Homo sapiens: one gene and its partner. The protein of the gene in region 1 interacts with the protein of each later gene in a biochemical or structural test. Each region holds a gene or a part of one and is shown in the gene's direction. Other genes may lie near its edges.

Region 1 (7,472 bases):
GTGGCCCAGCAGTTTTATCCCCAGGAATATATTATGAAGAAACGAGTTCCCATGTGTCCCCAGGAGACATGTACAAGAAGGTTACCTCCTCTGGGTCTAACTTGATCCTCTGTATAATGGGACTCACAGTGCTTAACCTTATAGGGAGAATTCGAATTAAATAATTGAATTAAATAGAATGTTTGTAAAGTGCATAATTTAGTGCCTTGTGTCTAGTACATGCTTAATAGTAACTGCTTGCTAGCAATAGTAATATAATTGTTGGTTAGTCTCATCAGCTGACATCTCAGAGAAGGGCCATTTTAGGATTGGTCTTTTCTGAAGGAAACCAGAACTCTCCAAGTGATTGAAAAGTTTGAGAAGATCAAGGGACTATCCCCTTCCCATCCTTATTGTCCCATAAATTCCTAAGGGCCAGGGTTGAAGGGCAGGGGCTGAACTGTGTTGTTTTGGGGCCTGCACACCTTTGGGTAATGCGTATGGACAGCTGCTTCACTCCTGTCACTTAACTAATTTGGCAAATCACTAAATTTTCCTTTTGAACTGTATTACATGATTTTGTATCAAAAATCTCATTCTATAAAATAAAACATTGGAATGACATTTCAGTGGTTTTGTGGGGGCACTCATGCAAATTAGAGATGATATACTACAGAAAACAAAGTTTAAAAATCTTAAATATTGTCACTTAAGATTAAAAGATCAAAATGAGTTGAAAATAAAACAGAACTGCAGAAAATGAAATCAGTAACCATTTTGTTTTCTGTAGTGAAAGACTTAAAGGAATGGGCTACTGAGTGGGACAAATGGGCTAGTTCTCTATTTCCTAGCAAATTGCCCCAAAACTTAGTGCCTTAAAACAAACATTAATTATCTTTGAGTTTCTTTGGGTCAGGAATTGGGCCTGCCTTAGCTCTGGGTGCCTCTGCCTCAAGGTGTCTCATGAGGGGCTGCAGTCAGGGTTCTGTGGGCTAGTTCTAACCAATGGGCTAGTTCTCTATTTCCTAGCAAATTGCCCAAAACTTAGTGCCTTAAAACAAACATTTATTATCTTTGAGTTTCTGTGGGTCAGGAATTGGGCCTGCCTTAGCTCTGGGTGCCTCTGCCTCAAGGTCTGTCATGAGGGGCTGTAGGTATGGAGCTGTGGTCTCATCTGAAGGCTCAGCTAGGGCAGGATCCTTATTTACACTCACATTTGTAGTTGTTGGCAGGATTCAGGTCTTCACGGGCTGTTAGCCTGAGAGCCTGAGTCCCTCACTGGCTGTAGGTCAGAAGCCACTCTCAGTTTCTTGCCCCAGCAGTCACTCCCAGGGCAAATTACCACATGGGCAGCTGGCTACCATCCCAGTGAGCAAGCTAGAGAGAGGAAGGCAGGGTGTACACAGCCTTTGTCGCCTAACCTCAGAGGTGACTTAGTATCACTTGCCACATTCTTTTGGTTAGAAACAAGTCACCCACAGAGGAGGGGATTTCACAAGAGCATGAGTATCAGGAGGTGAGGGTCACTGGGGCCACTTTAGAGGCTGCCTGCCTGAATCTGTCCTTTGCCCCATAAGGAGTCATGTCCCTCCCACATGCAAAATGCACTGGCCCTCTCCCAAGCTCTCCAAACATCTCATCCCTTTACAGCATCAGCCCAAAGTCCAGATTTGTCATCTAAATCAGGTCCAGATGGGAATGAGGCTTTGGGCGACACATCTGTATAATTTATTGCTGCATATCCAGTCACCCCGACATTTAGCAGCTTAAAACACTCTCATCTCACAGGAGGGAGGGATCACTGGGTGCTGTCTCAGCAGCTGCCTCCATAGCTGTCCAGGTTCACGTCCTTCCACATACTAGCTGTGTGCCCTTGGGCTGGTCATTTCCCTTCTGTGCCTCACTTTCTCATCTATAAATGGGGCCAATAATATTACTTATCTACTAGGGAGAAGTAATGATTAAATGACATAATTTCTCAAGTAATTGGTGTTGTCCCTGGCACAGAGTAAGTACTGAATAAATGATAACCATTTATAATTATTTGAATTATTTTTCTTAAGAAAAAACTTGAGAAGCTTTCTGAGAATGTAGATCGAAAAGGATAATGAGGGAGAAAAAATGATAGGCCTAAGATACAAGAGGCAGGAATCCAACCTAAAACACTCTAGTGGTTCTTCAAGTTGTCCAAGGACATCAGAAACAATCATTAAAGTTTAAGAAACAAAAACTACTAAACCAAAAGTATTTGTGCCTGCTGATTAAAGTATTCCGTGCGATACAAGCAGTGTTAGAATGTCAGGATGCAGGAGGGGTATGGAGGGGCATGTTGGGCATGTTGAGGTGAGGCCTCATGGGAGGTAACTGAACCCCGTGGGAAATGACTGGCTCCACCCCCATTGTCAGTCACCTCACATTAGAGATTGCAGACCCATTCAGTTTAGGAAACTGCAGAGGGAACCTATGACCACACTGTCTGCAGTTGTCCACACAGCTCAGGGATTCAGACCCAGCATGAACCAGCTTTTGGCCCACATGGGACACTCTTCTGGCCTGTGCTGTGACCAACATGAGAGAGAGCAGCTTGCTTCTTCTCAGCCCCATCTCCCAGTCTGTACCAGGCTGGGCTACAGGATGTCTGAGGGCTCTTTATCCCATGGATGTCTGATTCAGGATCAGGACCTTACTTACCATTTGTGCCCAGAGCACTTGGCATGGATGGGGTTAGGCAAATGCAGTTGAGTTACACTTGTGTTGAAGTGGAGTCCCAGTTGTAAATGTGATGTGTCTGCCCTCTCTGCCCAGCCTCCAGCCCTAACCTGTCTTCCTCCCTCTCTCTCATTCCCATGTCAGGCCAAGTGCAGGAACATGGAGCATGCACTGCGGGAGAAGGCCAAGGCCTTCTGGGCCATGCGGCGCTCCTATGAGGCCATCGCCAAGCACAATCAGGTGAGCGAACGATGGGGCCAAGTGGGAAGATTGGGTCCACTCAGGGCAGTCTGGGGAGGAGTGAAGATGTGTCAGCCGTGGCTTTGGCTCACATAACCCGCTGGGTAGAGGTCGGCTGCCTTACCTCTGATGGTCCTGTGCAGCCACGTCCTGGATGCTGACTGTGGCTTCTCTGCCTTGGCCCCTCTAAAGACCCAGGCGTGGTCATGCCAGCAGCCACAGGAGTGACTTAAAAAGCTACCAACACCATCTGCACTATGGCACATGCATCATATCACTGCCACCTGTGTGTTCAATGATGACCTGGGACTCATGTACTTTCTTGTTTTCTTTCAGTTCCCACATCCACTCCATCAGCAATCCTATTCCCCTATCTCCAAAGTATGTTATTTCTGTAAAACCCTCCACCTTTTGGTCCAGGTCATCATCATCTCTCACTGGGCCTCCTGCCTAGGGCCTCATGCTTTCATTCTTGTGCATTCTCCTTTCCATGGACTGGGGTGATCGTTTAGAAAAAAACACCAGCCGTGCCCCTCCTCTGCTTAAAACTGCCAGTGGCTTCCAGTCACCCTCAGTACCACCCAGATTCCTTACCATGGCCTCCAAGGCCATCTCCTGACCCTGCCTATCCTCAACCTCATTTACTTCTCTGCCTCACCTTCTTTCTGTCCCTTAAGCAAACTAAGTCTTCTCCCCAGAACACATGCCCAGCATCTTTGCCATTAAAATCTCAGCTCAGATGTTCTCTTAAAGAAGCTTTTCCTGATCATCCTCCTCTTTTACTCGATGGCATAATTTCCTGGTTTATTTTCTTAATGACACTTCATTACCTGTAATTACCTTTTGTTTTCTATTTGCTTTTTATCCCTTCCTGTCAAAATATAATGAAAACAGGGCACACTATTGCCAGTTATCTAGAGGAGTTCTTGGCACACAATAGGTGACCAATAAAAATTGTTGATTGAATGAGTGAAGTGGGTAGGTGACCAATAACTGTTAATCAAATGAATGAGTGGGCTCCCTCTGTCCCCATTCTGGTTGTTCTGCCTGGCACCCTCTCTTCCTCCAGGTCCTGTGTGGATTGGCAACCTTGTTTCTGACTGTTGATCTTGGCTCTGGTCTTTGGCTTTCTGAAGTGGTTGCTTCTAGTAATTACCACTCTGTTAGACTCATCTTAGCCACAGCTGAGCCATGCCTGGTCCAGGTTGCTGGGCGCTGTCCTCAGGAGCCTGCGGTCCCCTCCACCATGTGTCCATAGGTGAGGATTAGTCCCAGGAAAGAGCCTCATTAACATTTGGCTGTGGAGTTTACCCTGAGCCACAGAGCTGGTGGAACAGTGTGGAAGAAAGGATTATGTGACACACTGGGTGCCAGGGCAGTAACCGCAAAGCAGACCTATTTCCAAATCTAAGCCCAGTTCCCCAGCAAATCCCTCAACCCCCTCCAAGCTAATCCCCTCCTCTGTAAAAAGAGGGCAATTCCCTTTTACTAGGGTTTTTAAAAAAAAATTTAGATAAGATAATGCATACAAGTGCCCAACAGAGACAAGTCCTTAACATTTCTGATGTCTAATAGACCAACAAACTGGTGGGAGAGAGTTTTCACTTTGTTCAGTAGATTATTTTGTCATCCGATGTCAGAGCCATAAATACATGTTGAAATTCCAACTCCAAATAGCGATTACGAACCTGCTGTTGCTGGAGTTTGTTGAGTTGTTTTTCCAGTAGTCATCGTGGAGTCATGTAGCTTTATCATTGTTCTCTTACTTGGTTTCCTTCTGTGGCTAAAGCCATATGACTGGCTTGCCTTGTACAGGACTGGGTTGGGGATACTTAGGGAGTATCTGTCTGTCTGTGTGGTGGCACTGCCTGCCCATCCCAGGGAGTGTAGGAGTCCTGAGCTTTTTGCTGAGGCTAAGGGTAATGAGGTCACATGGGAAGCCCCTAGAATTCCAGCCTGATTAGTACTTTTTCTATTAAATTCAGTTATCAGGTCGATGAGGAAAGTGAAAGTTCTGGTGTTTGTTCCTTTACAGTGAGGCCGTCATTGCCCACGGTGAGTGGGCAGGAGTTGACCTTGCACTTGCTGGTTTTTCCTGCCATGCTGTGTTCTTGATGTTTTTGTGTGATAAGAATTACTGGGGAGAGGGAGAGCATCAGGATAAATAGCTAATGCATGCGGGGCTTAATGCCTAGGTGATGGGTTGACAGGTGCAGCAGACCACCATGGCGCACATTTACCTATGTAACAAACCTGCATGTCCTGCACATGTATCCTGGAACTTAAATGTAAAAAAAAAAAAAAAAAAAGAGAATCACCCTGGATTCTACTCTCTCCAATGCAGACATTATCAGTCTTTTCAGCCTGATAGGTTAACCATGCTGTTTGTCCTCATTTGCATTTCTTTGATTATTGGTAAGTTTGTACATCTTTTCACAAGCATAATAGTCATTTATGCTTCTTCTGTGAATGCTAATTCACATTCTTTTTTTCCCTTGGAATATTTGTCTTTTCTCTTAGTGGATTTGTAAGAGTGCTTTGTACATTAATAATAATAGCCATTTGTCATAAATGTTGCAAATATATTTCCTAGTTTGTCATTTCTTTTTGAGTGGATCATTCTCAATTTTTTTGGCCATTTTCATTTTTTCAGTGAATCCTTTTCGTATATTTTCAGAGCTGTAAACATACACACAGTCCCTGGCTTATGATTTTTTGACTTTACTGTGGTACGAAAGCAATATGCATTCAGTAGAAACTGTACTTTGAGTACCCATACAACCATTCTGTTTTTCCCCTTCAGTACAGTATTCAATAAATTACATGAGACACTCAGTGCTTTATTATGACATAGGCTTTGTGTTGGATGATTCTGCCCAAGTGTAGGCTAATGTGAGTGTCCTGGGCACGTTTAAGGTAGGCTAGGCTAACCTATGATGTTTTTAGTAGGTTAGGTGTATTCATTGCTTTGACTTAACTATTTTTCAACTTATGATGGGTTTATTGGGATGTAACCCCATCATAACTTGAGGAGCATCTGTATTTAACTTTCAGTCCAAAGATGAGTTTACTAACCTGCCATTGCCACAGCACACATTTTGAATGGTTTTTCCAACAGTTGTCATGGAATTGTATTTTTGTCTTTAACTTTATGATAGTCTCTTGCCATACACACCTCTTATTTTTCTGTGTATTCAGTTATCTCATTCTTTCTTCAAGGCTTCTCAGTTTCATACTGTGCCGAGGAATGTCTTTCTTATTCCAAGCTGAGAAATATTTATTTGCTTTTTCTTTCATTACATTTATGGTTTTATCTTCCCTTTTAAAAAACTTTTTGTGAGGCTGGGCACAGTGGCTCACGCTTGTAATCCCAGCACTTTGGGAGGCCGAGGCGGGCAGATCACCTTAAGTCAGGAGTTTGAGACCAGCCTGACCAACGTGGCAAAACCCCATCTCTACTAAAAAATACAAAAATTAGCTGGGCGTGGTGGCGTGTGCCTGTAGTCCCAGCTACTCGGGAGGCTGAGGCAGGGAAAATTGCTTGAACCCAGGAGGCAGAGGTTGCAGTGAGCCAAGATCACACCACTGCACTCCAGCCTAGGTGAAAGAGCGAGACTTAGTCTCAAAAAGAAAAAAAAAAACAAACTTTTTGTGGTTGTGATTTGGAGTGTGTATATTATTTTAATGATTGTTTTAAAATGAATGCTTCCTACTGCTCTTTTGGTAAAGCCTCTGGATCAGACAAATTTTAAGTCCTAAGATTGGAAGGTAAATACTTAAAAAAAAATCATTGCTATTCGCAGCCATTCATTTCTATGATTCAGGACTTCCCTTGTTATGGTGCAACCTAAAGAAGGAACTGAACATTGTATGTAGATGAGGTTATAGTACTACAGTTGCCATCTATATAAGCTGTGATTTTATTTTTAAAAACCCTGTCAAAACAATCTAATATTAGGTTGTTGGACTTTCCCATTTGAAATCGGAACTTAGAAATTTGTGCTTATAAACTATTATGTTGATATTTTATCTGTAGGGGTTCTATACATGATTTATTTGAACATAAATTTCCTTTGCTAAAAATGGGAAAGTTGCTGGGCTATGGATGTCCTCTCCACATCTGACCCCTGACTCCTCCTGCTGTCTTCCGTAGGTGGAGGCTGCATGGCTGGAAGGCCGGATCCGGCAGGAGTTTGATAAGCTTCGCGAGTTCTTGAGAGTGGAGGAGCAGGCCATTCTGGATGCCATGGCCGAGGAGACAAGGCAGAAGCAACTTCTGGCCGACGAGAAGATGAAGCAGCTCACAGAGGAGACGGAGGTGCTGGCACATGAGATCGAGCGGCTGCAGATGGAGATGAAGGAGGACGACGTTTCTTTTCTCATGGTAAGGAGCTCAGCGTCTGGATTCAGTGACAGGGCCACATGTTCCAGGACCAGCTGGGAGCCATAGCCCACCAGCCCTGGCCAACGTCATCTTCCTGGAGCTTCCTGGGTACTGGCCTGGAGGAGCTCACAAGTAACCTGCTCTGCTTGTGTCATGAAAC
Region 2 (7,472 bases), on another chromosome or scaffold:
TTATTCTGCTTTTGAGAGAATTATCTTCGCTGGGTGAGTGGGGAAACTACATTGTGGTTCTTGCAGGCTTAAAAAGTCCCTTCTCCCCTTTCAGTGAGTCAGATAATGAAGCATGCATTTCCCCTAATTAAAAATGCCTCAACTACGGAGCTTGCAGTGAGCCGAGATCGCGCCACTGCACTCCAGCCTGGGCGACAGAGCGAGACTCCTTCTCAAAAAAAAAAAAAAAAAAAGCCACAACTAATTAAAAAATGATTGGTCCGGGTCACCTGGTTCTCTGTACTGCCTTAAGAGCTTAAGTGTAGACTGGCAGAGCCCGGTGCCCAGCTAATGCCGTCTGTGCAGCTTCATTCCTGGCCCTTTTGTAGCGGGCACAGCCGCCTCTCCTGGGACTTGATTAATGATGACTTAAAGAAGGTTCTTGAACTCATTTCTCAGTTACTGACTTGAGCCAAAATGTATGGATGTTGGTCTCCTGTCTAGCACAACTGCTTTCATTTTAAGCATTGCATTAGAAATAATGTTGTATTCATATTTTAGCAAAGAGCATCATTAGCTCTTTAAGAACCGTACCCCCAGTGACTTAGCAAATTTGGTGGCGGTGACTCTAAACAGCTAGCACTTTATGGGAGTTGCTTCTGTGCCTTGAATGTTGTGACACTGATGTGGGGTCACAGGAAAAACCATTTTATTTCCTAAAGCTGTTTATTTCTTAATATTGAGGCAATGGAAGAAATGAGGAAACGGCCGTGGGCAGGAAGGTAGAAGAAAATGCAGCACTTACATTACAAACTCACTTTACTTGGGTTTTAGTTTATTTTGCTTCAGTTTTTTGTTTTTTTTTTTTTTTTTTTTTTTTTTTTTTGAGATAGTTTTGCTCTTGTTGCCCAGTCTGGAGTGCAATGGTGTGATCTCGGCTCACTGCAACCTCCACCTCCTGGGTTCAAGCAATTCTCCTGCCTCAGCCTCCCGAAGTAGCTGGAATTACAGGCACTTGCACCACGCCCAGCTAATATTTTTGTATTTTTAGTAGAGATGGGGTTTCACCATGTTGGCCAGGCTGGTCTTGAACTCCTGACTTAGGTGATCCACCGGCCTCGGCCTCCCAAAGTGCCGGGATTACGGGCGTGAGCCACTGCACCTGGCCTGCTTCAGCTTTTATGAAGGCAAGTCAGGATGTGTTATCTTGGCCAAGAGCTAAGACTGAGACCGGAGTAGAGGAAAATGACTCATTTGACATTACCCTTCTTTCTGAATCACTCCAAAAGTCCACAGTCAAATCTCAATTAGCTGGTATAACACAAGAATGCGTTGACCCTGTGAGCAGAGTTTTATTGCATCTTCAAGGGTCTTCGTGAGATTGGTTTATTTGGTATGAGGTCTTAAGGATTTTAAGTTGTCCCTTTAAGCATCAGTTCTGATACAGATGGGAATAGAGCTAAACAACCAGATATATGAAGACCATTTTTGATACCACCATACTTGCGGGGAGCTTGCATTTTTTTACCAAGGGGCAGACTGGATAATTGAGTAATTTAAATACTTGGGACTTTGTTAAAGAAGCTGTTGGGGGAAGGTGAGCCTGGGTGAGTGGTGGAGGGTGATGTGCAGCATCTGCTGGGCCTTCCTGCCTCTTGGTATGACTGCTCAGCTCAGGAGTTGGGTGCTTTAGGGCCCCTACCATGCAGTGCGGTGAAGCCCCGCCCCTGCAGTGGTTTGTGCTTGTCTGCACGTAGGAGGGAACAAGCCGGCTGCAGTACCTTCGGTGGCCTCTGAGACTCACCTCCCCCACTTCTGTCCATAGACAAAGCTCCTGGGGAGCCCTAAGCCTCTTTCCTCATGCCAGCAAGCAGTCTTGGAAGCAGGCTGGGGCTGCAGTGGGAGAGATGCCAAGACCAGTTATTCAAGGGCAGTGAGGTTGCCAGTCCTAGCATTTCACACTGTGGACCAGCACAGCTGCTGGCTGAATACTGCAGTCAAGATTCTCTGAAGGGAGTCCTATCCCTTCCAAACATCTTCAGTTTACTTGCAGATAATGTTTCTTCATTTTTTATTTTATTTTATTTTATTTTATTTTTTTGAGACGGAGTCTCGCACCATGACCCAGGCTGGAGTGCAGTGGTGCAATCTCAGCTCACTGCAAGCTCCGCCTCCCGGGTTCATGCCATTCTCCTGCCTCAGCCTCCTGAGTAGCTGGGACTACAGGCAACCGCAACCACGCCTGGCTGATTTTTTTTGTATTTTTTAGTAGAGACGGGGTTTCACTGTGTTAGCCAGGATGGTCTCAGTCTGCTGACCTCGTGATCCACCTGTCTTGGCCTCCCAAAGTGCTGGGATTACAGGCATCAGCCACCGCGCCTGGCCATGTTTCTTCAATTTTAAACAACTGATATCTCCCTTGGCCATGAACGAAAAAGAACTGCCCATCAGTGGAGTCAGTCAGGGCACATAAGACACACTGTGTCCACCATGCCATTTCAGAGGAGATTTGATTGAGTTAAGCAGGGAAATAGAGATGTTGTAAACGTTGAAACTATCTGGGTATCCCTCTTTGGTTATTAACATTAGATGAGCAGAAAAACAAATGTCACCGATGGGCAAACATTTAAAAAGTCTGGCAGTACCAAGTGTGGAAAAAGGTGTGGAAGGCAGCAACTCAGCGTTCATTGATATAGCCACTTTGGAGAGCAATTCAGCCTTATTTAGTAAAAATAGAAATAAACATACTCCATGACCTAAGACTTCAATTTCTGGATATATAGAAACTCACACAGTACAGGGAGACATGTACTACAAGAGTATTGATTAATAGAAGAAACTTAGTTTAACGGGGAGGGAGAGTGGCCACCAGTAAGACAGTCCATAAATAAAATGGTCTGTTGTACAGTGGACTAGTGTAACAGCTTAAATGAATTAGCTAGATCCATATACCCACTGGATGGATCTTAAATGTGCTGCTGAGTGAAAAACAAGTTACTCAGTGATATATACAGTATACCACTTAGGGCATTAAGAAAACCACAATATTATAGGGTTCAGTATAGACATAGATACACTGTACATAGACTTCAGTGAACTGGAAGGATATAGAGTTCATGACAGTGATTGGGTGTCAAAATGCATGATGTGGCTGGGAGCAGTGGCTCACACCTGTAATCCCAGCACTTTGAGAGGCTGATGCAGGAGGATCACTTGAGGCCAGGAGGTCGAGACCAGCCTGGGCAACATCGCAAGATTCCCATCTCTATTTAAATAAATAAAATAGAAAAAAAAGTTTAAGATGGAGGTGGAAAGGGTTGGAGGAGCTTGGGGATGGAGAAAAAATGAACTGTATAAAATTAAAATTCTTGTTTTTGTTTTTAGAAAGTAAAGAGGGCCGGGCACAGTGGCTCATGCCTGTAATCCCAGCACTTTGGGAAGCTGAGGTGGGCGGATCACGAGGTCAGGAGATTGAGACCATCCTGGCTAACACGGTGAAACCCCGTCTGTACTAAAAATACAAAAAAAAAAAAAAAAAAAAATTAGCCGGGCCTGGTGGCGGGCGCCTGTAGTCCCAGCTACTCAGGAGGCTGAGGCAGGAGAATGGCCTGAACCTGGGAGGTGGAGCTTGCAGTGAGCTGAGATCGCGCCAGTGCACTCCAGCCTGGGCAACAGAGCGAGACTCCATCTCAAAAAAAAAAAAAAAAAGAAAAAAGAAATTAAAGAAAATACAGCTCAGCCTTTATTTGTGTTTTTTTTTTTTTCCTTTTTTTCTGAGACAGAGTTTTTCACTCTGTTGCCCGGGCTGGAGGGCAGTGGTGCGATCTCCGTTCACTGCAGCCTCCACTTCCTGGATTCAAGCAATTCTGTGTCTCAGCCACCCAAGTAGCTGGGATTACAGGTGCGCGCCTGGCTAATTTTTGTATGTTTAGTAGTGATGGTGTTTCACCATATTAGCCAGGCTGGTCTCGAACTCTTAGCCTCAAGTGATCTGCCCGCCTCAGCCTTTCAAACTGTTGGGATTACAGGCGTGAGCCAACACAGCCAGCCATGGCTCAGTGTTAATGGTCAGTTCTGGGTGGTAGAGAGGCAGATGTTAAAACTTTTTTTTCTTTAATTCGTAACATAGAAGCAAACCTATAAAGGCTGCCGTAGGAAGACCAGTCATAGTAACTAGTTCAGTGCTCTTGGAGAGTTGGCACTGCCTTTCCTCCTTTATCCCCCCGACTAGAATGCAGGGCAGCCCTTCCAGTAAATGTTGAGCCAGTGCCTCACTTTGCTGAGGCCATCACCCACCTTAGTTGCACTTAAGAGGACCCTAAATCAGGGTCCCAGGTCCCTTGCTGATTTTAGAGTGTGGATATCATACCCAGAAACACCGCCCTACTTTTAATCCTAGTAAGGAGGCACCATGTCCCAGGACAACTAATGCTTCCCCCAAACCACCTCCTTCAGGCTGAAACCAGTTCTCTGCACTGAGCAGCTGGGATGGAACCAGGAAATCCTCGGCATCTGAGGACATTGAGGGGTCTCTGACTTAGGGCTTCTTCACCTGAAGTTGAGTGGTCTTTGAGGGAAGTAGGCCCATTTAGCATCAGCTGCTCTTCCCTATTCCACACTCTAGTTGGAAATAGGACCTTAGGTTCCTGTTGACAAGTCATTTACTTTCAGCCCCGAAGAAATAAAAGAGCCAAGATTTTTTTTTTTTTTTTAAAGCCAGGGAATTTTACTAGAACCTACAAGTGGGCTCATTTTGTTCTGTGTAGCCTGGTAACACCATACTGCTTTCTGCTGTGGGGCCTCCTGGGGTTAAAGTGTGGGCTTAAGACCCAGGTCTCTTAGCTAGAAGATATCTTATCCTCTGTATCCTGCACCCATATGCAAATACATTATTGTCATTACCCTTAACTATAGATGAAGATGAACAGTGCCTATTCCAGACCTTACTAGGTTCTGCTGGCCCGTCACCCATTTTGATCATGTTGCTGGCCTAGTTTGATTAGGGCAAATCTTAGAAACTCCATTTCCATTGTTGAGGAAGAGAACTAGAGAGCAGGCTGACCTGAATGCCAGCGTATCATGATGCAGACTTTCTAACGGATGCAGGTGTTCGGAAGAGTTGTGGATCGAAACGCCTTCATGATGGCTTGGAGGTGTAGGTAGCAAACTGACGTCACAGGAAGGAACACAATCTTGGGTACCTACTGGCAACGTTGGAGGGAGAAAGTGAGCATCAGGTGCCATCATTTTATAGTTGATCTATGTGATGAGGTTGGTATCGGAGCATAATTGGTACAAAGGAAAAATGACTTAGGCAGATGCAGACTCACGGGCCAGGCTATTTTATTAGGGCAGAATGATTTGGTCCTTTGTGGAAGAATTGGTGGAGTGAAGCGTGAATCTTTCCCAGCACAACCCAACAACAGTCCTGGCCCTAAGAAGTGGAGCATGGGAGTTGGGTGTGGTTCGTGCCTGTAGTCCCAGCTACTTGGGATGCTGAGGCTGGAGGATCGTTTGAGGGTGCAGTGAGCTATAATATAATATAATCACACCACTGCACTCCAGCCTGGGTGACAGAGTGAAACCCTGTCTGAAAAAAAAAAAAAAGAAAAAAAAAAAGTTGGAGGGAGGAGTGTTGGGTATTTTTTATGATTTTTGTCTCCTGGTTTCTGAAGAATGGCCAAAAAATTGTGTCTGACACAAAGGAAACTAATATAAAAAGCCAGGAGCTGTCTGAGATGAGAAAGGAAAGGGAGAATAGGGCACTTGGAGCTGAGCTGTGATTGTGCCTGTTCCAACCTGTCACTCCAGACTAAGGCCTCTTAGAGATGGTGTCTCCTTTCTCACAGAGGAGACATGGCTCTGAGGAAGATCTTACTGCAGGGGCTCGGGCTCAAGAATAAGGCTCCTGGACCTGGGCATGGTGTGTGCTGCTATCAGTGGATACGCCAGGCTTCCACTGCTGGCTGGAGGTTGGCTCTGCATGTCTGTGCCTTCCTAGGAGGAGGATGCAATAGTGAGTCAGACTGGCATGGGTGGGGCCACATGTCCTGGCAGGCACTGTCCAGGCAGCTGGCATGAGGGAGAGGAGTCTTTCCCAGAAGTCCGCCCTGAGAAACCAAGGCTGGGCTGCTCTCCTGGAGCCAGGGGAGTCCAGTGAGTGTTTTACATACAACTCTAGGTACGTGGTTGGTGGGATGGGCAGTTTGTGCTGGGAAGAGGCTTGTGGAGGATTTTGGAGAAGGCAGGAGAGCTCTGGCCCTCCCTGCAAGGGAGGCTTCAGGTCAGAGCCTGAGGAAAGACCTGGGCATGAGATATGAGGTCTCTGGCTGGGTAGAGAGCATGAAGGACACATGAGATCTGGAGTCTGGATGAACTTGCTGACAAGCAAGCTTTTTTTGACTGCTAATGCGTAAATCCACTATAGAAATTTTCATTTGTCATTTTTGTACTTATTGGCAAAAAATTAGAGCTTATAGGCATCAGATTTAATTTGAGATAGTTGAAATAGGGTTTGTGTTTGAGGCCAATATAATTTTATCTGCTAATGGCATCTCGTGGACTTGGAGGCAGCCCTTCTGTACCAGAACATTGTCAAAAGCTTTTACTGTAAAGCTTGAGAACAAACTAGTTTGCTGGATTTGGGCATGTAACTAACAGGTTTGAGGCATGGGATTATCCTGTGGACTTTTTTTTTTTTTTTTTTGCTTTGAGGTTCTGAATGTATTAAGGTTGACCTTCTTAAGCCGTTGAAACTGTTCTGCAGTACATTTGTGATGTAGGGCCTAAGACTTGTATCGTTTTTTTTTTTTAATCACAACCCAGTGTACAGAACTTGAGACATGCGTCTTTTCTCTGCCACCTTTTAAAAGCAGATTATTCTTGAAGTGCATAGAGCAGCAATTGATTAATGGAATTGGTGTCTTCACATTTCATTTACTTCCTCCCAACAATTTTATAGGATGCATATAAATATTTCCAAAAGAGGTACACATAATTTCTTACTATAAAAGTATTTTTATATTTATATCAGTAAATTTGTTAATAAAGAGGATTTTTTTTTTTCTGTAATCCTACCACCCCAATGACGTCCTATTAAAATTTCAGTATATATCCTCCCAGGTCTTTTAGGTATGTTTAATTTGGTGTCCCTTCCCCGCTCCCAAAAGGGGAGGGACCAGGTTCTTGTATAGAATAGTGGAATGTTAGTAAATCACAGGTTTAAAGAGACATAACAGTGGAATCTCTAGAGCAGCTGTCACCTGGATACCTGGTTATTAAGGTAATTTTTCCATTACCCCAAAGAGCTTTAGTTACACTCAGCTTTTTCCTTAATCCTTGTGCAGCTCTCCAGGGCACACCGTATTCAGCTCTGAGCGGTCTTTGCTAGTGAGGCCAAGGAGCCACCCTGAGCCAAAAGGGGAGCATTATGTCACCGGAAGCCCAACCCCAGAGAACCAAAGGTATGACCTGATATTCAGTGGCCCCAGCCA

Evidence for each region.
Region 2: the proteins of TRIM35 (region 1) and PKM form a complex in vitro, tested with the Homo sapiens proteins (one study listed by BioGRID).

What each region holds. Positions count from the first base shown.
Region 1 is NC_000008.11:27,293,920-27,301,391, reverse strand, and holds part of TRIM35 (E3 ubiquitin-protein ligase TRIM35), read left to right. Parts: intron 1-2,832; coding exon 2,833-2,928; intron 2,929-7,081; coding exon 7,082-7,312; intron 7,313-7,472. UniProt on the Homo sapiens protein: E3 ubiquitin-protein ligase that participates in multiple biological processes including cell death, glucose metabolism, and in particular, the innate immune response.
Region 2 is NC_000015.10:72,221,138-72,228,609, reverse strand, and holds part of PKM (pyruvate kinase PKM), read left to right. Parts: coding exon of another isoform or gene 1-33; intron 34-6,038; exon of another isoform or gene 6,039-6,056; coding exon of another isoform or gene 6,057-6,160; intron 6,161-7,325; coding exon of another isoform or gene 7,326-7,442; intron 7,443-7,472. UniProt on the Homo sapiens protein: Catalyzes the final rate-limiting step of glycolysis by mediating the transfer of a phosphoryl group from phosphoenolpyruvate (PEP) to ADP, generating ATP.